Regions from separate parts of the Homo sapiens genome. Here all the other regions are linked to region 4. Evidence: fine-mapped expression QTL. A gene starts in region 4. Each other region holds a variant in brackets. All regions are shown on one strand. Distances are between the middles of the regions. Region 1 overlaps CDC45 (cell division cycle 45). Region 2 overlaps CLTCL1 (clathrin heavy chain like 1). Region 3 overlaps HIRA (histone cell cycle regulator). Region 4 holds the start of CLTCL1 (clathrin heavy chain like 1).

Region 1 (7,412 bases), 210 kb before region 4:
CTGGCCCTGTGGCCCATTTGCTGTCTCCAGTGAAACAGACTGGGGTCGACCTCACAGGTCCCACAGCAGCCCTAGGATCCAAGGATCCTAGGATCCTAAACCTCACAAGCTTGAAGAAGTCTTATTTTTAACCCAAAAAGAACTCAAGACTTCAGGAATGGCCAGACTCAGATAACACTCATTTGTACATTCTCGGGTTGTTGTTTTTTTTGCATTATTTTAGGAGCACGTTGGTTTTTTTTGCATTATTTTAGGAGCACAGTTAAAGTAGAACCCTTCACTTTAATGAACCTGGATGTAATGAAGATAAATCCAGAAAAATGTGTGTTTACCCAAATTTATTTGCAGACTCTTCAATCATTTCCCGCAAATTCTCCTTCAAGGAGATGTCCATGGCCTGGAACTTCTGCTTCACCTGCTTCAGGGGAAGACTGGAAAGAGCAAGCCCAAGCCACATGAGTGAGGTCACCACACACCGACAGGGTGGAAAGAAACCCAAACCAAGGGCAAGCGAGGATGTCCCCGCACCAGCATTCAGAAGATATTCTGGGATCTAGGGCAAGGAGCTTATGGCAGAACAGGCTGCATTTTATAACTAAGTTGGTCACAACAAAGCAGAGGGGCTTTTCCCTTGGGGGTGGCCAGGGCTGGCACTGCAGAGGCCCAGGCAGTCACTCACCCCATGTCTGCAAGGAACTCCTGGAGCCGCTTCTGTCCATGCACAGACCACAGCTTGAACCTGGCTGCGGTATAGCTGGTGTTGCACAGGCTGTCATGGAGGGACCAGTGCTGGTAGAGCACCAGGCGGAGGCTGGGCCTGCAGTCAAGGAGCATGCAAGCACCCACTGGCCGCCCTGAGCACTCTCGTAACTCCAGCAGGTGGGCCACTCTGATGGCGGGGCCCTTTCTCACCAGGCCTGCCTGCAAAACCAGGTATCCCAAGAGTGACCTGGAGCCCTTTGACCTTCTTAGCTTAAGCTGACCCATACAGAGAGCCTGTGAAGTGACAGGCATAGACCACCATCCGTCTGACAGGCAGAGAATCTGGAGCACAGGGGTCTGCAAAGTCCAGGTGCTGTGGTCACATGGAGCAGTCATGGCCACACATGACGTAGGAGGCTGGGCGTCACCAGCTTGTCGTCCTGCACCTCCTGCTCCACCTAGCCCAGCCCTCCCTACAACCCATTCCTCCGGAGAGCCCTCCACTGGGACCCCATCCACGAAGCGCCCCCATCCTCAGCCCTTTTTTCGTTTTTTTTTTTTGAGACGGAGTCTCGCTCTGTCGCCCAGGCTGGAGTGCAGTGGCACGATCTCGGCTCGCTGCAAGCTCCACCTTCTGGATTCACGCCATTCTCCTGCCTCAGCCTCCCGAATAGCTGGGACTATAGGCACCCGCCACCATGCCTGGCTGATTTTTTGTATTTTTCGTAGAAACGAGGTTTCACCGTGTTAGCCAGGATGGTCTCGATCTCCTGACCTCATGATCCACTTGCCTTGGCCTCCCAGAGTGCTGGGATTACAGGCGTGAGCCACAGCGCCCGACCTCCTCAGCCCTTTTCTTAAACATATCCATCACTGCCCCTGGCACCGTGAGCGCAGTTGTGAGTGTGGACTGTCCCCCACGGTGGATTTCCCCTCTACAGGACGAGAGCCTGGTCCTGCCTGCTTCCTCGGCATGCTCAGTTCCCACCACTGCCCCTCCCAACTCCTGGGAACTCCCAGGCCTTCAGACCACCATGCTCCCTGCCCACACTCCAGCAGCTTCCTCAAGCCCCAGCATCCTCAGCTCCCTGACTCCCTCCCTCCTGTCTCAGTCACACACTCCCATGGTCCCTGGGTAAGTGAGCCCACCCTGCCACGCACATGATGGGACCAGCTCCAGTGCACAGCGGCTCCCCTCCCCAGGAGTTCAGCCAGCTCCACCCCGCTCCCCAGGCTCCGATGGCCACCTGACTACTGACGTGTCCACCCTCACTCTTCCTCCTTCCCAGCCATCACAGTGCAGAGACAGGGCAGCTCCGTCCCTGACATCATGCTATCTGACTGCTTACAGCCACTGCTGCAGTTTGGGCCAAGCCACTATTGTGTGGCCTTGGAAAGCAGTGACCATCTCCTTGCCCCCAACCTACCTCTACTGGGCAGCCAAGGGACCTTTTAAAAACCCTGACTCAAACTCTGGTCACTCCACAGCCTCCCGCTGCCCTTGGCTCACAAGGCTTGCTCTGGCCTCCTGACACCTGACCCCAGCCAGTCCCCCAGCCCCTCCTGTGCTCAGTACAGCAGCTGCCACACTGAGTGTGGCTGAGACTGTGTGAGATGTGGTCTCCCCATGGTCTTTTCTGAGCACTCCACCAATGTCCCATGTGCTTCTCAAAAGACACGTCACGCTGTGTGATTACATGGCAGCTGCCTTCTTTCCTGACTGCGTGAACCACTGCCCGCACTGCTACCATGTCCAGAGCCAGGCCCACAATAAGCACTTTACAGGGATGTGCTGGAGAAGGGTGATACTTCCAAACTCAGCTCTGGCATTTAGAAGCCAAAGCCACACAGATGAGCTGGGGTAGCACACCACAGCCCCTTCCCCCAAAACTTCCTGCCCCACCTGCTTTCCCTCCTGGGGATGTGGCCAGAACCCACAGAGGGTGACAAAGCAAACAAGGCCTGCTGAGCAGGGGTGCTGCCTGTGCCCCTCAGGCTGGGCCACAAGGATACTCATACTCAAAGGAGATCCGTGTGCAGTCCACGGAGAGTGTGTTCTCCTCATCCTCGTTCCGGTGGTTGTGGCGGGAAACGTGGCGCTGCAGGACACCAACATCAGTCACGTATTTCATTCTGGAAAAAAAAGTAGCACAAGCCTCGGCTGGTTCCCTCCAGCTCTTACCAGGCAGCCTAAGCCTAGGCTCCATTCCCGCTCAAGGCCTTCCTCAGGGGCCTGCTCACCACAGGAGCTGTTCCCATGCAGGGACTAAGGACATGCAGCCTGCATAGAAACCAAGCACCCAGGAAAACATGATTGGATGGAGCGGGGGGGTGTGGTCTCTAGCCTTGTCCACCTCCGGTCCTCATGGGTCTCACACCTCCTGAGAATGGGCACCGCAGAGGCCACAGCCCATACAGCCAAGATGACAGACTCCGTAAGTGACAGGGATCCACAGCAGAGTGGGTGAAATGTTCCCTATAAACTTTACAAAATTAATGAGGGCAGGGGGAGGGGAGAAATGAAAATGAACCCAGCTCGCAGCACATCAGCATCAGTCACTAGGTCGGCGTGCTCTCTGACTGCTTCCTCGTAGCTGCTTGGTGTCTCATTGCCTCAGAAGCATGTAGACCCTGTCACAAGATTGTAGTTCCCCTAACTGCTCCGTAGATCACAACTTGAACCTTAGGAAATGCTGTTTTCCCTTTGAGATATTCCTTTGGGTCCTGTATACTGATGGAGCTACTGACTGAGCTGCTCCGAAGGACCCCACGAGGAGCTGACTAAACCAAGAGTGCAGTTTGTACACCCTGATGATTACATCCCCCTTGCCCCACCAATCAACTCTCCCAATTTTCCAGCCCCTCACCCTCCAGTCCCCTTAAAAGCCCCAGCCCAGGCCGGGCACAGTGGCTCATGCCTGTAATCCCAGCACTTTGGGAGGCCAAGGTGGGCAGATCACCTGAGGGCAGGAATTTGAGACCAGCCTGACCAACATGAAGAAACCCCGTCTCTATTACAAATACAAAATTAGCCGGGCGTGTTGCTGCATACTGGTAATCCCAGCTACTTGGGAGGGTGAGGCAGGAGAATCACTTGAATCTGGGAGGCGGAGGTTGCGATGAGCCGAGACAGCGCCATTGCACTGCAGCCTGGGCAACAAGAGCAAAACTCCATCTCAAAAACAAACAAACAAACAAAACCAAAAAAGCCCAGCCCAGAACTCCTCAAGGAGATGGATTTGAGGATCTCCTCCCATCTTCTCACTCGGTGCCCTGCAATCATGAAACTCTTCCTCTGCTGCAAACTCTGCTGTCTCAGTGTAACAAGTCTGTTACTGCACAGCAGGCATACAAACCTGCTGGTCCTATAACACATTATGGTGAGTCTAGCCTCGAGCCCCTTGTGGGCATTTGCTTGCCTGCGGCTTGGTGCGCCTTCGCTGTTCAGTGGGAAGGACCCAGAGACAAGCCCAAAGCCCAAGCGGCCACTGGGTTCCATTGAACTATATGGGCTGCCACCCGTGCCCTGCCTGTTGACAGGGCAATGTCAACCTTTGGTGCATAGACTGCTCGCAGCAAAGCAAGTTTCTGGTTTTGAAAGGCATCTTAGGTAAGTTTTCTC[C/T]GTGCAACCAGCACCCTTTTCTCCTCTGATTTGCTGGCCTCTTTGGAGGTCCTGTGGCCTCTTCAAAGGTTTTGTGGCTCCCTCTGAAGTCTCGAGGCCTCTTCTGAGGTCTTGTCGACCCTCCCTAATAATAGGAAGGGCCTCGTTTGAGGGGACTTCCTCTGCATTGGAAGGAGACCAAAGAGCACTGCTTGGGAGAAATCCTCTTGACTTCTGAAATTTGGAACTTGATTTCGGAAGGCCTTTTGTTTGTCTTTGTCTTGTTATGTAGGTTTATGTTTGTGAAAGGGATCCCTGAAGGAATTGCTAGCAGCAGCTCAGCAGGCCTAACTCAGGTTGACCATATACTTTTTCATCTTGCCCAGAGACCACCCGCTGAACTCCTGGTTGGAGGTAATTCCTCCCAACTTTGAGTAGATCAAAGGTGCTGGGGGCTGACAGGGGCAAGTATGAGCCTCGCCACGTCAAATCTGGGCGCAGAGTGGAATGATCAGTGTCTGCATTTTTGTTGTGTGTATATCGTCTCAGCTGGAATGAGAAATATTGATTTGGTTACTCCAAGCTGGGCACTGGGCTGCATCTTGTGAAACTGGGAAGACAAGAGACGTACATCTTCATCAGGATAGTGCAGTGGGTAACCTACCCACTAAAAGAAGAAATTCCTGTGGAAAAACTATGAGAAAGTTTCTGCCTGCTTTCTTTTTTTAAAACAGGGTCTCACTCTGTTGCCCAGGCTGGAGGACAGTGGTACAATCATAGCTCACTGAAGCTTTGACCTCCCGGGTTCAAGTAATCTTCCCACTTCAGCCTCCCAAGTAGCTGGGACCACAGGCATGCACCACCATGCCCAGCTGATTTTTTTTTTATTTTTATAGAGAGGGGTTCTATGTTACCTAGGTTGGATTCCTGCAATCCTCCCACCCCCGACAAAGTGCTGGGATTACAGGCATGAGCCATCACCCCTGTCTCTTTTCTGTCTGCTTTGAATCTGGTATTATTAAGCTACTGGTATTGAGAAAAGACTCACTGTCTATGGTATTATTCAGAGCTACTTGGAGATTTTGTTTTGCTTATACAGCTCAGCCAGTTGTAGCTAAAATGTAATCATTGAAAACTTGAAACTGGAGAAAAAAAGAAAGGGTAAGTTTTTAAAATCAAACTGCTATAGAAACTGCTTTATTCAAAATTTTAGTTCACAGCCTTCACTGAATTACCTACTGGGATAAACAAAGTTTATTTATGTGAATGGTTCCAATTTTGTCAGAAATAATTTGGATCCAGCCCTCTTTTATAAACTGGTGAGTTTGTACTGCTGTCTCATGGCTAGAGTTCTGCAGTAAAAGCTGTACCTTTGTATGTGTGTGTATGTGGGTTAAAATAAATTTAGATGTATGTACATGTTGTGTTATGTGTTGTGCCTACATGCTACCAAATTGGCTTATAAATAAATGAGTGCTCATAAACAAAGTAAATAAGTTCAAATATTTTTCAACTTCATGTGACTTAAATGATCTTTAGTAAATAAGCTGGCTTTAAAATTATTGGTAAAATAAAAATAGAAACGTCTTCAAAACTATCAGCGTACATCTTTTTTCTGAGTTTATTGACTGAACGATTTTATATTTGTCTCTACTGGATATTTAGGGTGTCAGGACTTTGCATAAAAGGTTTTAAGACTGTAAAACTAACCAAAACCAGAATGATCTTTGTATGACTTTTTGACAAATAAGATGAATATTGTTGGTTTAATGATAACAGCTGAATCTTCTGAGTTGTCAGCAAAAATACACATGCATTTAACTTTAAGGTTCTTAGGTGAACATCTGATGGTCACAGGCTATAAAAATGATTAAGAAGGCCAGGTGTGGCAACTCACATCTGTAATCCCAGCACTTTGGGAAGCTGAGGAGGGAGGATTGCTTGAGCCTAGGAGTTTGAGAGCAGCCTGGGCAACAAAGTAAGACCCCATCTCTACAAAAAAATCAAAAAAATTAGCCAGGCATGGCGACACATGCCTGTAGTCCCGGCTACATGGGAGGCTAAGGTGGTAGGATTGCTTGATCCCAGGAGGTCAAAGCTGCAGTGAGTTACGTTCATGCCAACACACTCCAGCCTGTGAGACAGAGCAAGACCCCATTTCAAAAAAAGAAAAAGGTTAACAATAAAATAATTTGAAATGATGACTAGTTTTGTCTCTCAGTTTTCATAAGTAATCTAGGCAAACTTAAAAATGCATGAAATGTAAATTGTATGAATGCTTCTAGGCAAACGTTCCATGCAGCTTAAAATCCTAAAATTATTTTAGATGCTTGTTGGGTGTCTGGGTCATTTCCAGTTAAGAAAGGGTTATAATATGTCACAAGATTCTGAGGAGGCCACAAGACCTCCAAGGAGGCCAGCAAATCAGAAGAGAAAGGGGTGCCAGTTGCATGGAGAAAACTTTTCTAATGCCTTTGAAAACCAGAAACTGTCTTTGCTGCGAGCAGTTTATGCACCGAAGGTTGACACTGCTCCGTCAACAGGCAGGGCACCAGCAACAGCCCATATTTCAATGGAGCCCAGTGGCCACTTGGGCTTGTCTCTAGGTCCTGCCCACCGAACAGTGAAGGGGCACCTAGCCGCAGGCAAATACCCATAAGGGGCTTCAGGTAGGCTCTCCATAATTTTTTGTTTGTTTTGGTTTGTTTTTTTTTGAGACGGAGTCTTGTTCTGTTGCCCAAACTGGAGTGCAGTGGCACGATCTCAGCTCACCGCAGCCTCCGCCTCCTGGGTTCAAGCGATTCCTCTGTCTCACCCTCCCGAGTAGCTGGGACTACAGTACAGGTGTGCCATCATGTTCAGCTAATTTTTCTATTCTTAGTAGAGACGGTGTTTCACCATATTGGCCAGGCTGGTCTCGAACTCCTGACCTCAGGTGATCCACTCACCTCTGCCTCCCAAAGTGCTGGGATTACAGGGGTGAGCCATCGCGCCCGGCCTCCAAAATGTGTTATAGGACCAGGCGGTCCATATGTCCACTGTGCAGTAACAGACCTGTTACACTGAGACAGCAGAGTTTGCAGCAGAGGAAGAGTTTCATGATTGCAGG
Region 2 (7,121 bases), 110 kb after region 4:
CGAGTCACTGAAGGCTCAGATGATTGTTAGCATTCTTTAGCACTAAAATATTTTTAATTAAGGTGTGTACTGTGTTTTTGTAGACATAATGCTGTTACACACTTAGGCTACAACATAGTGTAAACATGAATTAATATGACTCACTTTATTGCAATGTTCACTTTATTGTGGTGGTCTGGACCCAAACCCATGTGTCTCTCTAAGGTGTGAATGTCTGTGGTGACATTGGCATCCACTGAATCGCCCAGACAGTCCTCTTTGTGTGAGTGTAGGTCTTTTGGTTCTAGGTGTCCAGAAGGTGCCCTTGGCTCCAGAGCTGGACCATTCAAGTGGATGGCACGCACGTGCCCACCTGTGCCCCTGCCTAGTGTCCCCATAACAAGCTTGGCCAAGTGCCTTGACGGTTCCCTCAACTTGTCAGGCAGGTCAGCTGCCCCTGGTGAAGCCTTACCTGCGGTCAGTCCAGAGCCACAACAACAAGAGTGTGAATGAGGCACTCAACCACCTGCTGACAGAGGAGGAGGACTATCAGGTGGGTGTGCAGGAAGGAGCCCTGTCCTGGGTGGGCTGGGCTCCTCCCCTGCAACTGCCATTCTGTTCTCAAAGCAGGCTGCCTTTGCACAGGAGGGTGTGCAGGCCCCACAGGACACCAGTGGATATATGGGCAGGGGCCTTTCTAAGGCTGTGCTGATAGCAACAGCCATCAAGTAACACAAGGTGCCTGCTCCATGTGTAGGCAGCCCATGTCAGTGTCCCATCCCTCACAGAAAGGCTGTCTTCCTAGGGCTTAAGGGCATCTATCGATGCCTATGACAACTTTGACAACATCAGCCTGGCTCAGCAGCTGGAGAAGCATCAGCTGATGGAGTTCAGGTGCATTGCGGCCTATCTGTACAAGGGCAATAACTGGTGGGCCCAGAGCGTGGAGCTCTGCAAGAAGGATCATCTCTACAAGGTTGGTGGCCTGGGCCCGTTTCCTCCCACCTTCCTGCCTTGGTGTGTTTCCTGATGGCTTTGGGGGTCACATCCCTTCCCTCTTGTTCCTGAGACCTGGCTCTGAGCTTCACCAGGGGATCCTCGTGGTGGGTGGGGGGATTAGTATTAATGGGAGACCATATTTAGAACATAGAGTAAGAATTGGGAGTGAGCTAGCACCCCTTAAAAACTGTTTGGATTGAAAGACTTGTAGAGTTTTACGGAGTTGATTCTTTTCGCAGCAGTTTTGTGTGAGTTTCACTCTACCAAAACACAGTGTGGCAAGATTCACTTCTTGGCACCTACTTTACTTCCTATCAAGATTTGGGAACTTCCCTGTAATCTCAGCACTTTGGGAGGTTGAGGTGGGTGGAGTGCTTGAGCCCAGGAGTTTGAGACCAGCCTAGGCGACATGGCAAGACCCCATCTTTACAAAAAATTAGCCAAGTGTAGTGATGGACATCTGTGGTACCAGCCACTCGGGAGGCTGAGAAGGGAGGATCACTTGAGCTCAGGAGTCAGAGGCTGCAGTGAGCTATGATCACACCACTGCTCTAGGCAACAGAGTGAGACCCTGTCTCCAAAAAAAAAAAAAGATTTGAGGAATTTAAAAACCTAAATTAAAATCACATTCAAAGGCTGGACGTGGTGGCTCACACCTGTAATCCCAGCACTTTGGGAGGCTGAGGTGGGCAGATCATTTGAGGTCAGGAGTTCAAGACCAGCCTGGCCAATATGGTGAAACCCTATCTCTACTGAAAATACAAAAGTTAGCCGGGTGTAGTGGTGCACTCCTGCAATCCCAGCTACTTGGGAGGCTGAGGCAGGAGAATCGCTTGAACCCAGGAGGCGGAGGTTGCAGTGAGCGGAGATCACGCCACTCCATTCCATCCCGGGTGACAGAGTGAGACTCTGTCTCGGAAAAAAAAAAAGGAAAAAAATAAATAAATCACATTCAAAACATTTGTTTCAAAGCTGGGTACGGTTGTGTGCACCTGTAGTCCCAGCTACTTTAGAGGCTGAAGTGGGAGGATCACTTGAGAGGAAAAAGAAACTGTGTTTTTTCTGCTGGTGAGAGGTTTCTTAGTATCATTCTCAGACCGGGATCTGGGCATCAGCTAGACAGGTTGGGCTGCCTGGAGGGACCCCCAAGACCCTGAAGGCATTAACATCCTCTGCTTGGCCTGAACATCTCCCCGCGGGGGTGAGGTGGAGTTGTACAAGAGGGCCCTTGTGGGTGCTGTGTGATGCAGCTGAGCCAATTCCCAAGGGCTCCTTGTGCCCAAAGACTCTGGACTTGACCTGAGGGTGTTACTTACGGAGTTGGCCTTAGGCATTCCTGAGTATCTTCACAGGACACATGGATACTTGCCACTTCCTGTCCCGCACAGGGGCCTCATTCTCATGGCTCCTGGTCTGCGGCTGTTGGCTCAGACTCCGTGGAGGCCTCTGATGCCTGCATCAGTGTTGCATTGAGTTTCACCCTAAGTTGTCACCTCCAGTGTTCTGGACTGTTCTGTGACATATCCTAGCCCTTGGTGACAGTGCTTGTGATCCTTCCTGAGGTGCCCACAGGGCCCCTGCAGAGGGAATGGAGAGGAAAAGCTGCTGAGGCTCTGAGACCGCACCTGGAGGTCTCTGGACCTGGCTGCTGGGAGGAGACAGCTGGGCTCAGACGCACCTGAGGGAAGGCTGCCCTCGGCTGGCTGATCACAGCCATTCTGTCCTACCCATGTGGTCCCTGTCAGGGGCTTAAACACACAGCCTCCTCAACACTCAGGCAGTGATGAGTGAGCAGGGCCATCAGTGCTGCCAGAGGCCTACTGGCCTTGCCAGCCACCCACTCCGAGCCACGTGGGCCCAGAAGAGAGTCCAGAGGACAAAGCCACAGATAGAAAGTGGCCGAGCACAGGGCCGGGCGCGTTGGCTCATGCCTGTAATCCCAGCACTTTGGGAGGCCGAGGCGGGCGGATCACAGGATCAGGAGATCGAGACCATCCTGGCTAACATGGTGAAACCCCATCTCTACTAAAAATACAAAAAAGTAGCTGGGCGTGGTGGCAGGAGCCTGTAGTCCCAGCCACTCAGGAGGCTGAGGCAGGAGAATGGCGTGAACCCAGGAGGCAGAGCTTGCAGTGAGCAGAGATCACGCCACTGCACTCCAGCCTGGGTGACAGAGCGAGACTCCGTCTCAAGAAAAAAAAAAAAAAAGAAAGTGGCCGAGCGCGCTTCCCCCAGAACAGTGGCTGTCAGCCAGGAATGACTGTGACCCCAGGGAATGTTTGGTTGTCACAGCTTAGGGCGTGGTGCTGTGTATAGGCCGTAGAGGCAGGGATGGGGCCCACAAGCCCCAGTGCACAGGCGGCTCCCCAGACCTCCCAAGGTCAGCACTGCCACTGGAGGAGCCTGCCCTGAGGCCAGAGCTGAAGCCTCCTGGAGTCTTCCTGGAGGAGTGGCCAGGTCACAGCGTGTCCAGTCAGGGCAAAGCCAGCTAGCAACAGAAAACTGTATTTCCAGATGACAGAAGTAGCATTTAAATGAAAGTTCGGTCAGTGGGGCCCTCCCACACCCACCAGTGAAGAGCAGGGGCCTGCGGAAGTACAGGTGTAGACTGGAGAGCTGGACACAGGGATGGGGACCAGGATGAAGCCTCCCTGAGAGTGGCATGGGCCGGGGAGGTGATGAGAGAGGAGGGTGTGGGAGAGCCTGACTCGAGCTGGGCTCCAGGCCGCAGGAGCGGGACACTGACTGGGAGCTTCCTGGGGGCTGCTTCTACTGGAAGTCCTCTGGGAAGGCAGTGAGACAGTCCCCAAGGCCCACAGAGGAGGAACAGAGCAGGGCCCACTTTAGGCACATGTGGAAGACAAGTCAGCAAGGGTAGGCTGGGCCGGTGGAGGGCACGGCAGGGAGACAGATGAGCGGGCGTCACAGGTCCTCAAAGCGGAGACCCAAAGGCACCTGGAGCTCTCACCTGAGGGTCAGAATCCTGGTGCCTTTGTAGGAACAGTGTGGGTCAGGAGGCAGCGATCGATGAGCAGCATGCC[A/G]GCGGGGGAGACTTCTTTCCGGAGCCAGCTCAGCACATCGGGTCCATGCAGATGTGGGCACTGGGCGTCCTCAGGGGTCTCCCAAACGGAACTCAGAGGTGTGTGCTGCAGGCGATGGCAGGCATGCAGAGCTGGGACCGCCACAGGGTATCCCTGGAGAGCACAGGTCACAGTCAGTGGATCATGGCCAACTCCAGGTGGAGTGGCCCTGGGCAAGTGACTACATCTGGGTCTCAGGTTCCTGGTCTCTGAATGGGGTACTAATAGCCCCTGCCATAGAAGGAATCAGGTGATCCAGTGCCTGCTGTGGAGCTAGAAAATAGAGAATGGCCACAGAAAGTGCAGGCTTCTTCAGGACTGGTCAGGTGCAGGTGTTATTTTGTCAATGATATTGTCTTAGACAAATACATTTGCAAGGATGAAAATAGCAGTTAGGGGTTTTTGAGCCACTTGAAAGAAAAACACATTGCTGTTTCTAGAGCAGTAGCCGTACCCCTCCTAACTGCTCCCCTGGTGTCACACGCTCCATGGACCTGAGTGCAGCACCTCTGCAGCAGCCCCACAACCCCCAAACTCCCATCAGTGCCTTCCTCAGAGCAGCCTGTGCACGCCCTCTGCCCTCGGGGCTAGAGTTCCTGTCTCCCAGGGCACCTGCGCCTCCGTGAGCCACCTGTCCCCTCCAGAGCCTCCGGAGGTGGCATCTCCGTTTCACCAGTGGGCAGCAGGGCATAGGGAATGGCCCAGCCATGGGTCCAGGCTTGCTCCACAGCGCAGGAAGTCCTTGGTGGAGTCTAGTGCCACTCCCTGCCCTCCGGCCCAGCTGCTGCAGGCACAAAGCCTCTGCCTGCAGGATGCCCAAGCAAGCATTTGCCTTGGCTGCAGGATGCCATGCAGCATGCTGCAGAGTCGCGGGATGCTGAGCTGGCCCAGAAGTTGCTGCAGTGGTTCCTGGAGGAAGGCAAGAGGGAGTGCTTCGCAGCTTGTCTCTTCACCTGCTATGACCTGCTTCGCCCAGACATGGTGCTTGAGCTGGCCTGGAGGCACAACCTCGTGGACTTGGCCATGCCCTACTTCATCCAGGTGATGAGGGAGTACCTGAGCAAGGTAGGTGCCGGGCCGGCTGCAGCTCCCCGGCCCCTGTGTGGCATGACCCAACCCTGGCAGTGACTCTGGCCGCAGGTCTTAAGGGTGGGCCCCTTTGAGGCCAACCCAGATTCCCCAGCCAGCCCTGGCTGCCTTCAGGAGTGGCTGCTTTCCTTCATGCTGAAGTGGTTTTCTGCCCAACGTTAAGCCCCTCCAGAAAATCATCATGGGGAGTGCCCACTGGCAGCAGCCCTCCTGTAGACTCTGGCTGGGCAGCTGTCCCAATGTGCACACTGCTAGGAGCACAACAGGCGTGCTCATCCCCAGCCCTGGACTTCAACAAGGTGACAGTGAGGTGGCTGGCAATCCCAGCTCCCTGAGGAGCTCCCAGTGGCGTCTGGGGGTGCAGCTGTTAGCATACGGTTGGTGGTAGCTGCCTTTTGCTGAACACATAGTAGGAGTATTCACAGATCCACTGAATCCTTCTAACAGCTATAGGGAGGATGACTCTCTGCCTCATCGAAGTGACAGTACTTGATTGTAAAACTCTCCCTGGGTGTTGAAGTCCTAGGAGTCCCTGCTGGGATCTAGCTTTAGCCACTGTCCAGAGACCTGTGTCAGCAGTGTCATCTGGTACAGTTTGTTGTTTCTAACACTGGAAAAGCTACTTCCAGTAGCATCTACTTGCCTATCTAACCTCCTTCAAGCCAGATGGAGAGCCTCGGAAGGCACTCATGCTGAAGCATCACTCAGTGGAGCGAGGGAAGGGAGGGGCCTCCCAGGTGAGTGGGAGGTAGGAAGGAAACAGGAAGGCGGGCTCATGCTGCCAGCTTTAGCCTGGAGGGCTGCCTGCCGCCTGCAGAGCCTCCAGGGGGCTGCCCAGCCCCTGATAAAGGCCATCCCAGAGTCCATTCAAGGCCGTTGCCCTCCTGTAGGACAGTGTGACCCCATCCCATCTGCATAGCATGCCTGAGTGAGACTCCCTGATGACTCTCAAGGGTTGGGGAGGAAGGGACAGCCCTGGCTACGTGGCCTGAGATTCGTGGGCTGCCAGGGGACATGGACTGGTTGGATTGACAAGGGCCCTGGTTCCCCCACCACAGTGGATGGCAACTCCCTACAGGCGGCACGTGTGGTATGTGGTTTGTGGTATGCAGTGTGTGGTGTGCGGTGTCTGGTGCGTGCCTGTGGAAGCTGCTGTCACCATGATGAGCAGGTTTTCCCATCCCTCGGGTGTCTTTCCTGAAAGTAGTCTGTGTTCTGAGAACCAGCACAAGGAAAGAAAGTGCTTGAATCTCTTCCTGGCAGTAGAGGCCCGTGGGTTAGTGTCAGAGGAACTCAGGCTCACCAGGCCCTAGGGAGTGTCATTGCTGTGGGGGTCAAAGTGCTTGTGGGGATCCCCCAGGACTTTGAGGCGCACATTCCCTTTCTGTTGCGGATGATGGAGTTAGCAGCCACTATCACGTTGGTCCACACTGTGGCTGCACAGCCTTGGCCCAGGGTTCCCAGACTCCACTGGCCCTGGGAGGTGGTGGCTGCTGGAGCACCTTCTCTGCTGCCACCCACCTATTCCTGCTGGGGCAGATGAGACGCCTGTCATGGGGAGAGTTCAAGGAGAGGAGGGGGCTGGCAAGGGGTTTCCCAGTCAGTGGCATGGGGGTGTGAGCTGATTGTCAGCTTGAGCTGGTGCTCAGCTGACACCACACAGCAGTGCTGGGAGAATGAGGGCGCGGACAAGAAGCACAGTCCTTTCCTGGTGGACAGCTGGGCCTGGGGCCTCGTGGCTCATCTGGGAAGCTTGAGGGCCATCCCTCTGAGACGCCCCCAGCGCTCTCCCATTGTAGGGAGGGTACAGGCCTAGCTCAGCCCTCACCCTAGGTGTCAGCAAGTGTGCCCCCTGCTTCCTCCTCATTTCTCAGCCCCCCCCAGACCCCAGCTCATGGGGGGCACATTCTTATTTCTCTTTCTTACTCAGTGTGTTTGTGAGGGGATCCTAGCTGCACAGTTGCTGCCGCCCCT
Region 3 (7,403 bases), 40 kb before region 4:
ACAGAGCGCAAGACCCTGTCTCAAAAAAAAAAAAAGTCAAAAAGTTCTGCCTTTTTAAGCCAAATAATGAAAATGTAGTTTGTAATTATAACATATGTAGAAGTGAAGTGGCATGACAGCAGTATCACAGACGCCAGGAGTGGGGATATGAAAGTATACCATTAAAAGATTTTTACACATTATGCAAAGTGATATAATACTTGAAGACAGACTATGATAAGTAAAGGCATATACTGTATGTTATATGCCCTAGAGCAACCACCAAAACCAAAAAATAAAACTCATGCACATACACATACAAATCCCAAAGCAGTAAAAAGAATCGTAGCTAAAAAACTAACAAATAGATAAAATTGAATGATAGAAAATAATACATTCATTCAAAAGAAGGCAGAAAAACATACATAGGATGGTAGATTTAAACCCTAATATATCAATAATCATTAAATATAGGTCTAAAAGGCATAGATTATCAGATTAGAATTAATAACAACCAGCTGTATGCTGCTTATAAGAAACCCAGCTTACATGTAATAACACAATGGCTTAAAAGTAAAAGGACTGCCGGGTGCGTTGGTTCATGCCTTAATCCCAGCACTTTGGGAGGCCAAGGCAGGTGGATCACCTGAGGTCAGGACTGGCTAATTTTAGTATTTTTAGTGGAGATGGGGTTTCGCCATGTTGGCCAGACTGGTCTCGAACTCCTGACCTCAAGTGATCCAGCCGCCTCAGCCTCCCAAAGTGCTGGGATTATAGGCGTGAGCCACCGCGCCTGGCCTAATTTTTGTATTTTTAGTGGAGATGGGGTTTCGCCATGTTGGCCAGACTGGTCTCGAACTCCTGGCCTCAAGCGATCTGCCCGCCTTGGCCTCCCAAAGTGCTGAGATTACAGGCATGAGCCACTGTGCCCATCAGACATAAGACTTTAAAATAAATGTCTTAAAAAATGCTCAAGGAGAATACAGACAACTAAACAAAATCAGGAAAACTATATATGAAGAAAATGAGGGCCGGGTGCAGTGGCTCATGCCTGTAATCCCAGCACTTTGGGAGGCCAAGGCGGGCGGATCACAAGGTCAGGAGATCGAGACCATCCTTGCTAACATGGTGGAACCCCATCTCTACTAAAAATACAAAAAAATTAGCCAGGCGTGCTGGCCGGCGCCTGTAGTCCCAGCTACTCGGGAGGCTGAGGCAGGAGAATGGTGTGAACCCAGGAGGCGGAGCTTGCAGTGAGCCGAGATCACACCACTGCACTCCAGCCTGGGCGACAGATCGAGGCTCCATCTCAAGAAAAAAAAAAAGAAAATGAGAGTATCAACAAGGAGATAGAAATTCCAAAAAAAGAGCTAAACAGAAATCTGGAGTTTAAAAATACAATAACTGAATTGAAAAGTTCACTAGAAGGGTTCAACAGCAGACTCGAATAGACAAAAGGGTAAATCAGCAAACTTGAAAACAGGTCATTTGAAATTATCAAGTATGAGGAGCAAAAAGAAAATAGAATGAAGAAAAGCAAACAGAGTCTAAGAGACTTACCAGACACCATCCAAGTATACCCATGAATCCATAATGGGAGTTCTAGAAGTGTAAGAGAGAGAAAGGAGTAGAGAGCTTATTTGAAGAAATACTGGCGGAAATTTTCCAAATTTGAGGAAAGACGGGGGTCTACTAATACAAGAGCCTCAGTGAACTCTAAGTAGGAAAATCCCAAAGGAACCTGCACTGAGACACATTAGTCAAACTGTGGGAAAGGAAAGACAAAGAAAATCTCATCCTTGATGTCAGTTTTAAAATAGTATTCCTGATGTTTTCTTTATGGTAATAATTAACTTTTCCTTTCTATTTCTTTTTGAGCTAGTTTTGATAAATTATATTTTTCTAGGAATTTCTCCATTTTCTCTAAATGTTCAAATTTCTTAGCATAAAGTTGATAGTAATCATATCTTTTTCTTTCTTCTATATCTGTAGTTATGTCTCTTTTTATTTCTAATATTATTTCTTTAAGCTTTCTCTCTCTTTCTTGATTAATCCTGCCAGACGTTTGTCCATTAGTCTTTTCAAGAAATGACTTTTGCCAGGCATAGTGGCTCACGCCTTTAATCCCAGCACTTTGGGAGAACAAGGCAGGAAGATCACTTGAGCTCAGGAGTTTGAGATCAGCCTGGCCAACAAGGTGAAACCCCGCTCTACTAAATATATAAAAATTAGCCAGACATGGTGGCACACACCTATAGTCCCAGCTACT[C/T]GGGTAACTGAGGCAGGAGGATCACTTGAGCCTGGGAGGTTGAGGCTGCAGCGAGCTGTGATTGCACCACTACGCTCCAGCCTGGGCAACAGAGCTAGACCCTGTCTCAAAAAAATATATAAAATAAAATTGTTTTTCTAAATCTTCTCTATTAAATCTTTGTTTTCTATTTTATTTATTTCAATTTTTATTATCTCCTTTTTTTAAAAAAAATGTTTTTTTCTCATGTCCTTTTTTTCTTTAGTCTTTTTTTTTTTCCTTTCCCCTGATGGCTTTAGGTTGGAGTCTTGGCTTGTCATTCTTTCATGTTCTCTAATACAGTATAAGCTGTTGTTTCTAAATGCCTCTAAAGTGCCCACTTTTGCTGAATCTTACCACTTTTGGAGTATTTTGTGTTGGTTTTTTTTTTTTACCATTCTCTTGCAAGTCATTTTTAATTTCACTTAATTAGAATTCCCCTTTGACCTATGAGTTTTACTCAATTATTTTAGTTAGAAAACATGATCTATTTTAGGAGTTGACAAACTTTTCTGTAAAGGACCAGATAGTAAACATTTCAGCCTTTGCAAATCCATACCATCTCTGTTCTGACTATGGCACTCTGGTGTCAGAGCCTCCCTGTTGGAGTGTGGGCTGCTCCTCCATCAAACTTGGTCGCCAACAGCAGCCATTCTCCTGCTTATCCCATCTCTAACAACTTCTGTGTTACTCAAACCTAATAGTTACACTTATTCTTTACTGTCACTTCTAGACTTGTTGCAGGTATATCTGTCACCGTTAATTCAAGATCTTAGACCTTCTCGTCCAGTGTTAAAGTTGTCTGGCTGGTAGTTTTCCCTTTGGAGCAGCCGTACTGCTCAGGAGTCTGCTCTTTTGGTCTGTGCAGCAGAGACCCCAACTGGCAATGCTTGTTTCAGACTGTGGTGCCAATATGACCTGACGTGGAGGATGTTTAGGCAACTAAGCATAGTTTGGTCAGCATCCGAACATCCTCCACATCAGGGGATACTGGCACCTCATTTGTGTTGCTGGAAAACTAAAGCCAGTCACTGCCCCCCAGGTGCATCCTTGCCCTGGGGCTTGACCTCAAACCCCTGGCAAACATCAGCATGAGGGAACAGCCCCTCCTGAATGGCCAGCCACCTGACCCTCAGCCTTGTTCTACTCTCATCCTGCCCTGGATGGTCAGGGAACTGCTCAGTCACTATAAGGTCAGCAGTGGCTGTGCCCACGGATGGAGGAGCAGACCCTGCATTGGCCTCATCCTCCTTTATCCCCACACTGTGTTGCTCCCATTCCACCTGCCACTTCATCCTGCACATTTGCCCCACAGCTCTCTCACAGTTTCTCACCTGCAGAGGAATTGTTCTTTCCTTCTCCCGTGAGCAGACACAAGGTTCTCTGCCAGGCCAGGAAAGTCCCCACAATCTAGGTCTCTTCACTGACACTTGCACTCAGCTGTCACTCTGTGTCCACAGGGTCTGCGGAAGAGGGAGCTGCTGAAGGAGCTGCTACCAGTCATCGGGCAGAACCTCCGATTCCAGCGCCTCTTCACCGAGTGTCAGGAACAGCTCGACATCCTGAGGGACAAGTAGCCTGCCCCAGCCTGCCCTGGCTGCAGCAAGGGCAGGGCCACACTCTCGCCGCTGATGACATGCAGGACCGCCTCTCACCTGACCAGGCTGTAGGGGGAGGAGACACTGGCAGGAGATGTGCTGTCCTGCACCAGCGCCAGCCCAGCTCCCTGGGCAGATGTGCCCTGTGTCCTGGGTCTGACATTGCCTCAGGAGGGGGAAGCTCATCCCTCCCTCCAAGCCCCCGATGCGGAGCTAGGGCTGGAGCTCTGCCCAGGTGCCCTGGGGCCAGCAAGGCAGTCCCAGGCCTGCCGTCTCCAGCACGGCCCCAAGGTGGACACTAGCCCCTGCTGCTGCAGGCACCATGCTGCTTCAGCAGTGACGATTGAGCCATTTGTGAGAGAGAATCCGGAAGCGTTAGGTATTACAGCAGACTGACCTAAGACCTATGTAAAAGGAAAGCTGTTCCAACACACGGACTATTTTTGTACTAGAATTTGCTAACTTGTAATATTGAATTTCCTTTGGCCGATAATCAGGATTTCCCTATAAGTCACTTGGACATTGGTCACTTGTAGGAAATTTAAACTCTAATTATGACAGCTACACTGAAAAATAATTGTACTGAAATTAACTTGTCTATCTTCATTTGGTTTTAATTTTTAAATGTTTGTAAAAAGAGACTGTTTTGGGGGAATGGGGCAAAGGGGTGGGCGATTTCTTTTGTAAGTGTAAAATAAATGAACACGCATTGAATACCAAACCCTCCTGATTTCTCTTGCCTTTTCCTTCTAACTTTCATCCTCCCCACACAGTGCATCTCTCTCCTGAAGTAGATGGTGACAGAACATGAGAGCCAGAAGGGATCCTTTGTGTCATCTCATTCCCCCCTGTCATGGTTAATACTGCGTGTCAACTTGATTGGATTGAAGGATGCAATATTGATCCTGGATGTGTCTGTGAGGGTGTTGCCAAAGGAGATTAACATTTGAGTCAGGCTGGGGAAGGCAGACCCACTCTTAATCAGGTGGGCACCATCTAATCAGCTGCCAACGAATATAAAGCAGGCAGAAAAATGTGAAGAGATGAGACTTGCTTAGCCTCCCAGCCTACATCTTTCTCCCGTGCTGGATGCTTCCTGCCCTCAAACATCGGACTCCCAAGTTCTTCAATTTTGGGACTCGAACTGGCTCTCCTTGCTCCTCAGCTTGCAGATGGCCTATTGTGGGACCTTGTGATTGTGTAAGTTAATACTTAATAAACTTTCATATATATCTATTAGTTCTGTCCCTGTAGAGAACCCTAATATACCCCCCATGCAGAAATTCATTTCACAGTGTAGAGTGGTCACTTCTGTGGTCATGAAGCACCATAGGTCACCTTGCACACGTCATCTCACAAGTGAGGAGTCATGGTTCATGGTGGTTCATGGTTCTGGTCTTGCTGTGCCCCAGGTCCAGATCATACTGTGCACCAAGGGCTGCAGCTGTTTGGACAATTTCATGAAAGGAAATCAGTATTTACAGTCTTGGGTATATTGGAGAATTATCAGCAAAGTTGGAATTTTATTAGAAAGTGATCCAGACGTTGATCTACAGGAGAAGAAACAGAATCACAGAATCTTTAAGCACAGTGAGGGCTGAGTACCACCCACTCCTGGGTCCTGATCTTTGTCACCACCACCCAGTGTGTGGGTCTGAGCCTGGAGAAGGAGCCTTGGACTTGGAGTCAGAGGCCGGGGTAACTGACCACTGATCTCTGGCCTAGCAGCCATTCCACTCCATGTCTCACTCGGATGTCAAGTGGCTGGATGAGACCCAGGCATGTGTTCATGCCAAATAAAGCCAGGATAGTTTGTGTGAGTGTGTGTGTGTGTACACATAAAAAGCCAGGCTGCAAGTGGGACTCTTAAGGAATGAAGAGCCAGAGACTTGCTGTGCAGGTGAGGCAGCTCCCTTAGCAACTATGCAGCAAGACATTGCGAGCTTTGTGGAGCTCCAGGAAGCAATATATGCCAACAGGCCTGTCTGGGCTCCAAACCAGCAAACATCTGGGCCTCAGTTTTTTAGCTGTCAAATAGAGATTGAGACTAAAAAAATCTGCACTGGGGTCGGGCACAGTGGCTCACACCTATAATCCCAGCACTCTGGGAGGCCAAGGTGGGCAGATCACGAGGTCAGGAGTTCGAGCCAGCCTGACCAACATGATGAAACCCCCGTCTCTACTAAAAATACAAAAATTAGCTGGGTGTGGTGGCACACACCTGTAATCCCAGCTACTCGGGAGGCTGAGGCAGGAGAATTGCTTGAACCCGGGAGGCAGAGGTTGCAGTGAGCCAAGATCGCGCCACTGCACTCCAGCCTCGGCAACAGAGCAAGACTCCGTCTCAAAAAAAAAAAAAAAAAAAAAAATCTGCAACGTTATGAGGACAAATTGAGATTGTGTGGGCAAAGTCTTCGCACGTTTCCTCCCTTGAAGGAAACAGCAGTCGTGAGTGACTTTACCACCACCGTTTGGAGATGATGAAGAGATAAGCAGAAAACATCAAGGCCTTCAACTTACAGACAAGATGGAGTAACAGGGACCAGGTTGACCCTTCTACCTGAAACAACCAAAGGAGCCCGTCAAAAATACATGCAATGGTGGTTTCAAGACACTGGATACCATGCTGGGCACAGTAGCATGCGCTTGGAGACCTAGCTACATGGGAGGCTGAGGTGGGAGGACCATTTGAGGCCAGGAGTTCAAGGCTGCAATTAGCCATGATCATGGCACTGCACTCCAGCCTGGGCAACACAGGAAGATCCCATCTTGAAGAAAAAAAAGAAAAAGAAAAAAACAGAAGAAGACACTCCAGGTAGTACGCTTGGGCAATCATGGGGCTCACCTTGTTTGTATCCCATCTTGGCAGGGATTACTGTCCTTTGTTTTCTGATATCCAGAGAGAATTTCTAGGCCACAGCAAGAGGAGGCAGAACTGAGGTAGAGCCCAGTGGACTACTTGAGCTGAGGAAATGGAGCTGAGAGTCCAAGGAGACTAAGGCAGCACTGCTTCAGATCCACCTACCAAAAAATAAAAGCAAGACCCAAAATGATCACACTGTTTCCTGACCAACATAGTAAAACCTCCTCTCTACTAAAATACAAAATTAGCCAGGCATGGTGGCACATGGCTGTCATCCCAGATACTTGGGAGGCTGAGGCAGGAGAATCACTTGAACCTGGGAGGCAGAGGTTGCAGTGAGCCAAGATTGCACCACTGCATTCCAGCCTGGGCAACAAGAGTGAAACTCCGCCTCAAAAACAAAAAATTAGCCAGTCATGGTGGTACACACCTGTAATTCCAGCTACTCAGGAGGCTGAGGCATGAGAATCGCTTGAACCCAGGAGACAGGTTGCAGTGAGCTGAGATCGCGTCACTGCACTTCAGCCTGGGTGACAGTGCGAGACTGTCTCAAAAAAAATTTAAAAAGCTGGGCGCGGTGGCTCACGCCTGTAATCCCAGCACTTTGGGAGGCTGAGGCGGGCGGATCATGAGGTCAGGAGATCTAGACCATCCTGGCTAACACGGTGAAACCCCG
Region 4 (7,412 bases):
TCGTCCTAGGGCAATGAGAGTGTTAAAAGTGCTGCTCAGAGTCCTAGTGTCTCAAACATTCATCTGGAATTGGCAGATGCCTTTCAAGAAAAAGCAGCCATAAACCACTCACCTCTCTCATGTCCTTTCTCTCTGATATTGGCCTCATAATTATTCACTGCCTTTTTAGTTCTCTGAAGCTGTCTGAAAACTAAAGTCCTCCAGTGACTTTTTCTTTTTTAAAGACAGGGTCTTTCTCTGTTGCCCAGGCTGGAGTATAGTGGTACGATCATAGCTTACTGTAACCTTGAGCTCATGGGCTCAAGTGATCCTCCTGTTGCAGCCTCCCAACTAGGCCTATAGACATGCATCACCATGCCCTGTTAATTTTTAAATTTTTTTGAAGAGATGGGGTTGACCAGGCTGGTCTTGAACTCCTGGGCTCAAGCAATCCTCCTACCTCAGCCTCCCAAAGCGCTGCGATTATACGCCTCCACAGACTTTTCAATTCCACCTATAGGAAAGTCCCATGGGAATTGGAATTTAGCTATAACATGTCGTTTCTTGTACCAGTTATTAAATAATGTCTTTCAGCTCTATTCTCCCTTCCCACCTCTAGACACTGCTTCTGATGCCAGGGCTGAGACTCTAAAAAACATATTTCTCATTGGCAAATAAAGAAGATCTGATCTAATATTCCCTATTAGACTAAGCTGATAGGTTGATAGAGGGAGACCACAGGGCCACTTCCTGTGAGCATCACCCCAGCTAGGCTTCTTCAACAAGGCAGCAGCACATTCTTCCCACAGAAGCTGAATCCAGTTTAAGTTTTTCCAAGACTTGCAGAACCAGCCTCAGTATGCCTTCTCCTTAGAGATCTGGGTGAGAGTCTCCCAGTGCCCTCTTTAGAGGGCTTACTCCCAGCTCCACAGCCACCCCTCATCCATAGTGTGTGTCTAAGTCCCGTAGGGACCCTCCTCAGAGGTCTGAGTCCCATCCCCATGGGATCTCTCCTCTGGGCTCAATGACCCCAGCCCCAGCTGGTCAACACACCTCCTCAGAGATCTGAATTCCAGCTCTGCAAGCCCTTCCTTTAAGCTGTAATAATTCCAGCTTCTCTTTCATCTTTGAGCTCTAGGGGTGGTAGCTGTGTCCTATGTTTGTAACTCCATATCTTGGGATTTTCTTTTTATTATTTTAAATTTACTTCCTGTTAACTATTGTTTATATTCAGTTCCCTTTGTTTAAATAACTGATGCACTTTCTCTCTCTTCTGTGGTTTGAAGGTTTGTGTCCCCTTCAAAATTAATGTTGAAACTTAATCCCGGGCCAGGCGCGGTGGCTCACACCTGTAATCCCAGCACTTTGGAAGGCCGAGGTGGATGGATCACCTGAGGCCAGGAGTTTGAGACCAGCCTGGTCAACATGGTGAGACCCTGTCTCTACTAAAAATGAAAAATTAGCCAGGTGCGGTGGCGTGCGCCTGTAGTCCCAGCTACTTGGGAGGCTGAGGCAGGAGAATGGCTGGAACCTGAGAGGCAGAGGTTGCAGTGAGCAGAGATCGTGCCACTGCACACCAGCCTGGGCGACAGAGCGAGACTCTTGTCTCAAAAAAAAAAAAAAAAAAAAAAGAATTGAAAGGTTTTTTTAGGGTTACTTAGCAAGTTACCTACAAGTGGTGAGAATATTAAAGTCCCTTTCAAGTCAGAACATTTAATTTTTTTACAAGTATATTAACAACTTTATTTCCTGTTAACTACAACTATCACTTATATTCACTTCTGTCTATTCAAATAACTGTTGTGCTTTCTGTCTCTTCTATGGTTTGAAGAGACAGAAAGATTTGTGTCTCCTCTAAAATTAATGTTGAAACTTAATCCCCACTTGAGGTCCCGACGTATTAACAATCCTGTCACTTTGCTTAACTATGATTTTCTTAAATTCTTTCTTTTAGGGTATAAAATTTTAGTTTTAATCCCCAAAAAGCCCTGGGGAAGGTGATTTAGGGAGTGATGGTATTAATTACTAAAAAATTTATATAATGTTTGGGGTAAAGGGTACTTGGAGTCACAGGCATCATTGCCAAAATAAAGAGATTTGGGAAATGTAGTACTAACCACAGCAAAACCCAGCTCTATATTTAGCGGATGAGGCCACATGGATTTTAGAAAGGGCGGGCTGCAGAGGTCTTGGCTAATACTGGAAAAGAGATTTAATTTGAAAGTGAACAGTCTGTTCTATTCCTTAACATATTTTTGGCTACTAGATGGTCAAGCCATTGCGCAAATAATTGCACCATCCTTGTCTTATTCAAGGTGGGCCGTTCATTTCTTAAAATTACCAGTGAGCAACATGGGAAGCAGCAGAGACGGCTATCGATTACCCCGTAGGGAGTGCCTGTGCTGAATGCCAAGGGCTTCCCTTTCCTGACAGACATCTTTTATGCAGCTGAATCATCTGTATGCAAAACATCAGCCAACGGTGCCTCGGAAAAACAACTGGCTGCTGGGCAAACCAGGTGTGGGCTCCAGCTTCCACCTGCTACTACTGTCGTGCAGCCACGGGCACTCTGGGTGATCCTCACTGGCCTGGGGCTGGTCATCTGCTGCTAGATGACCTTCGCTGACTCTCTACATTGATATTCCGACACAGTGTTCTCTAGAAACCGCATGAGCCAGGAAAGGTGTTTCCTAAAGGAGCAGGGGCCGAGCCTCACGCCGAAACACGTCTGTAACACGTACAGTCACGCGTCCCATGCATCCATGCATTCTGAGACATGCGTCTCGGTTGTGGGATCATCACAAGGTAACTTACACAAACTCAGATGGCACAGCCACTACACAACTAGGCAGCTGATGCGGTCCGCTGCTGCTAGGCCGCAAACCCGCACCGCGTGTGAGGTGCGTTATTCCCCTGGCACGGTAATGACATACCTGTACGTGTATCTCCAAATACAGGAGAGGAAATGTCCTTAGCTAAGCCCTCACCAGAGGACAGGAAGTTTCCAGCTCCGTTATCATGTTATGGGACCACCGTCATATACACGGTCCTCCTCAGACCAAAAGGTCGTTCGTTATACGGCACATGTGGTTCTTCCAAGACCCTTTTCCATCTTTCTGTCACATCCGTGCCTGAGTAAAAAGTGGCCCTGAACTCAACCGTCCAGAGTTGGCGGCAGAACTAGCACCACTGGCCCGCTCCACATGTGGAAGGCGCTGGGCAAGGGCCGCCGCAGACCCCATCAGGATTAATCCCCCGAAAACCTTTCACTCGGGTAGCTGGCACACACCGCGTCAGGGCAGAGGGCGCGCGGGACTACTTTCCGCGGACCCTCGGAGCGGGCGGAGGGATCCGCGCAGGCGGGACGGGGCAGAGGCGGGGGCAGGGGCGGGGGCAGGGGCGGGGGCAGGGGCGGGGCAGAGGCGGGGCAGGGGCGGGGCAGGGGCGGGGGAAGGGGCGGGGAAAGGGGGTGCGGGCCGGGGCGCGGTCAGGGAGGAGGGCGGGGGCCAGGACCGGGAGCTCGGGGCACTGCGCCTGCGCCGTCGCCACCGGTCAGCCCGCGCGAGGGGTCGGCGTTCATTCCTGCCGCTGCCGCCGCCGCCGCCGAGGTCCCGCACCAGCCATGGCGCAGATCCTCCCTGTTCGCTTTCAGGAGCACTTCCAGGTGAGGCCCGGCGGGCTGGGGGGCTGCCCTGTCAGCCGCGCCTCCGCCGGGCCGGACTGCCAGGCTTGACCCCGCGCCCCCAGCCCCGCTGAGCCGCTGCCCAGCTGGCCGCGCCGATTTCCGACCTCCCACCTGGGCTGGGGCTGCGGCGTCCCGGGCGCGGCGGCCGCTCCTGAGGACCCGCTTGGGTGCCGTCGCCGAAGCCCGTTACCGGCGGGGCCGGCTGGGGAATGGTGGGGGTGGAAGCCAACGCCCCCTGGGACGCCCCGCTCAGTGCCCGCGAGGAGGCACACAAATTCCCGCTGCAGGCAGGGCAACCCAAGGGCCGCGCGGATCCCACAGCTCCACGCCCCTCCTTGGCGTCCTGCGGTCCTTATTCGCCCCTGAGTTTGCCTCTGTGATCGGTTTTCGTCCCCAGGGCGGCTTCGCCTGGGAGGACCGTGAACATGCGTGACCCAAGAGAAAAATTTCTCAGGGCCAAGCCTAAATAGGGCTTTTCAATGCAGTAACACCCCCAAAGCCTGCCTTTTTAATAAGGTCCCAGTTTGTTCTCCATTTGTTTGTGTTCAGAAACATAAGGACTGGCCCCCTGCTTTGAGCAAAGGCTCAGGTCGGGCGTCGTGCGGGCCGCTCGCGGGTCTGCCCGGGAGCGGTGCTGGTCCCCACGTTTACCCTGGGAGGTGCGGCAGAGGAGGGATAGCCAGCGGCTCCTCCCTGAGTGCTCTGTGTTAAATCATCACACTACCATTCGTTGCGATTCGCTTACTCTTTTCTAGATGAGGAAACCGAGTCTCAAAAGTGTTAAAGAACTCATCTTCATTCAATAAGAACAGGATTCAGACTCAAGTCTTTTTGACCACAAAGTAGTACATCGAGGAACGTGCTTGCTTGAAAGTTCCTATTTTCACAGTGCAGAGCACTGTTAGCCCTAGATGCAGACGGGAAAAGCCTTGGGAACTGTGTAGTGCAGTCCAGTCCCCTCATTCTGCAGACTGGAAACTTGATATCCAGGGGATCCTGCCAGGGTCACTTGGTTAGTGACACAGTGGAAGTTGTATGGAGGTGGGAGTGCCCTGACATCTGTCCGGGCTTCATTCTGCCACTAAGCTAAGCCAGCACCAGTCATGTTGAGGTAGCAAAATACTGCTGCTGCTCATAATAATGATGATGATGTAGTTATCATTTACTGAGCCGTTTCTCTTGCCACTCACTAGACTACTGTATTTTATAAATCTGGTTTAATTTAATCCTCATGATAACTGAGGCAGATAGTGATATCCTGTTTTCTACCATGGGTCACTGAGGTTAATATTCTAATTCCTTCAGCAAAAGTTACATGGCTAGTAAGTGACAAAGCTTGAGTTCTAACCCAGGTCTGATTCCAATGCCTGTGCTTAACCACTATCTAAATATGTTCTTTTCAAAGGGCAAGAAAGCAACAAGATATTTTAGGTGTCCATCAGAGTTTCTAATGTCCATCAGGATTTGTAATGTCCATCAGAGTTGATATGTTCCATTATCTGGAAAATGCTTGTGGCTTGTGGTGGGCAGCCACGTGAATGCAAGTCTGGTTTGTGGTCTCTAACACTGACTGGGTCTTTGAGGCTGCTGTGCATTCTGTAGAGCAAACACTGAGTCAGCACACACTGCCTTCACTACAGACATTTCGAGACTTCAGCCTGTTCCTTAAATCCCTGATCCTGCCACTCCTGCCTTGCAACCAGCAGATGACTTGGAGAAAACTGAAGCCATAACTGGGATGTTTCTCACCTATATGGCTGCAGACTTAGATGTTTGTCTGCAGCCACCCTTTCCTGCCTTCCTGTTACCTCAAAAGTAGGTGTCCTTTCTTGTCTATGTTCTGGATCTGGTATCCTTCTTCCCTATAAGGGAGCCTCGTTCAGTCATAGCCTCCCTTTCCTGTATTTTCATCCTTCTGTCTTGTTGTTTCTTCCTGTTTGTGTTGGGCAATGCTCACCTCTCTTCCATCTGTACAACCAGCAAACTTCTTCCCCCGCTCTTGTCCCCACGAAGCTCTTGTCTCATAGCTGGATGTCATGAAAGAGCTGCTTTAGTGCTTCATTATTTTTATGTTCCACAGTAACCTGCAGTCTGGCTTTTGTCCCCATTTTTTCCCCTGAATCTGTTTTTGCCAAGGTTACAAGCCATCCTGCAGGCTTTTTTGTAAGGGCCACATTCTGTCTCTGTCCCATATTCTTACATTTTTTAACCTTCTAAAAATATGAAAAAGACTTTTAGTTTAGCCATACAAAAGCAGGCTGCAGTTGGCTAATCTTTGCTGTAAAAAATAAAATCAGGCCGAGCATGGTGGCTCACACCTGTAATCCCACCACTTTGGGAGGCCGAGGCGGGTGGATCACCTGAGATCAGGAGTTCGAGACCAGCCTGGCCAACATGGTGAAACCTCGTCTCTACTAAAAATACAGTATTAGCCGGGCGTGTTGGTACGCACCTGTAGTCCCAGCTAGTCAGGAGGCTGAGGCGGGAGAATCTCTTGAACCCGGGAGGCAGAGGTTGCAGTGAGCCAAAATCATGTCACTACTCTCCAGCCTGGGTAACAGACCGAGACTCCGTCTCAAAAAATAAGATGCGATGAGCTAGGTGAGATAAAGCCCATCACACCACACGCATCTTCTGTGATGTCCAGCCGCATTTGATGCTGCACTTTACTGCCTCCTGAGGGTCCTTTCTCTACTGTTTTTGGTTCCACAGTTTCCCAGGGTTTCTCCTTCCTCTCTGCCCACACCCACTGCCCCATGGGCGGCTCTTGTGCATGAGCTTGGAATCTGTCTTGAGCCCCTCTGCTTTTTCATTCAGGACATGCTGCTGGTGATGTTATGTATTCCCATAAGCTTGATGTTCCCAAGCCATCCGAGTGTTTTCGCAGTTTCACTGCTGTGTGTGTGTGAGGCAGTAGCAGGTCCTGGTTAAGAGCACAGACTGAGGCCAAACTGAAGGCACTGAATGTGGACTCAGGCACTTACTGGCTGTGTGATTTAGGGCAATGTTTGTAGCTTTTTTGTGCTTCTATATCTTCATCTATAAAATAAGGATAAAAGGTATACTTCTTATCTCACAAGGTAGTTGTGAGGTTTTTGAGTTAATAAATGTAAAGCATTAAACAATAACTGTTACATAATACAGTAGTCCCGATTTACCCATGGGGAATATGTTCTAAGACCCCCAGAGGATGCCTGAAACTGCAGATTGTTCTGAACCCTTTATACACTTTTTTTCCCTATGCATACATATGTATGATAAAGCTGAATTTATGTTAAGCACAGTAAGAGATTAACAATGATAACTAATAATAAAACAGAACAATAATAACAATATGCCAGCATCACTACTGTTGGACTTTGGGGCCATTATTAAGTAAATTAAGGGTTACTTGAACACAAACTCTGTGATGCTGCAACAGTCAACCTGGTAACTGACCGCTACTAAGTGACTAATGGGCTGGCAATGTCTACAGCGTGGATATGCTGGGCAGAGGAGGGATAATTCACGTCCTGGGTGGGCTGGTGCAAGATTTCATCACTCTGCAGAATGGTATGCAATTTAAAACTTATGAATTGTTTATTTCTGGGGTCTTACATTTAATATTTTCAGACTATAGGTAACAGTGTGAAAAAAACCACGGATAAGAAGGGACTACTGTAAAGCACTGTGTCCTTGTGAGCTGTTGCTGCCATTGTGACAGCTGCCTACTGAAGAAGGCCAGGAAATGGTCAGCAGGTTCCTCAAA

What was found. PIP is the estimated chance that this variant, and not a neighbour inherited with it, causes the effect.
Region 1: its variant is fine-mapped to the expression of CLTCL1 in whole blood (TOPMed, PIP 0.95).
Region 2: its variant is fine-mapped to the expression of CLTCL1 in whole blood (INTERVAL, PIP above 0.99).
Region 3: its variant is fine-mapped to the expression of CLTCL1 in whole blood (TOPMed, PIP above 0.99).

The regions. Positions count from the first base shown.
Region 1 is chr22:19,500,785-19,508,196 of GRCh38, reverse strand. It overlaps CDC45 (cell division cycle 45), which reads right to left. Exons shown (of 19, transcript NM_003504.5): 10 at 2,716-2,835; 11 at 680-811; 12 at 333-431. Among named protein-coding and RNA genes, the nearest start is that of CLDN5, 20 kb to the left of the region's middle. RefSeq lists enhancers at 1,325-1,825, 1,826-2,326. The variant C/T (reference allele first, on the strand shown) is at 4,325.
Region 2 is chr22:19,181,392-19,188,512 of GRCh38, reverse strand. CLTCL1 (clathrin heavy chain like 1) reads left to right here. Exons shown (of 33, transcript NM_007098.4): 28 at 422-532; 29 at 785-955; 30 at 4,902-5,123. Among named protein-coding and RNA genes, the nearest start is that of SLC25A1, 6.2 kb to the right of the region's middle. The variant A/G (reference allele first, on the strand shown) is at 4,020.
Region 3 is chr22:19,327,880-19,335,282 of GRCh38, reverse strand. HIRA (histone cell cycle regulator) reads left to right here. Exons shown (of 25, transcript NM_003325.4): 25 at 3,727-4,585. The coding sequence ends at 3,843. It overlaps LOC105372859 (a long non-coding RNA gene), which reads right to left. Exons shown (of 6, transcript XR_938002.3): 2 at 6,710-6,885; 3 at 5,203-5,308; 4 at 3,601-3,729; 5 at 1,540-1,581. Among named protein-coding and RNA genes, the nearest start is that of CLTCL1, 40 kb to the right of the region's middle. The variant C/T (reference allele first, on the strand shown) is at 2,249.
Region 4 is chr22:19,287,831-19,295,242 of GRCh38, reverse strand. It overlaps CLTCL1 (clathrin heavy chain like 1), which reads left to right and starts at 3,524. Exons shown (of 33, transcript NM_007098.4): 1 at 3,524-3,643. The coding sequence starts at 3,602. LOC105372859 (a long non-coding RNA gene) reads right to left here and starts at 3,296. Exons shown (of 6, transcript XR_938002.3): 1 at 2,913-3,296. RefSeq lists silencers at 3,406-3,645, 3,527-3,711 and an enhancer at 3,822-4,335.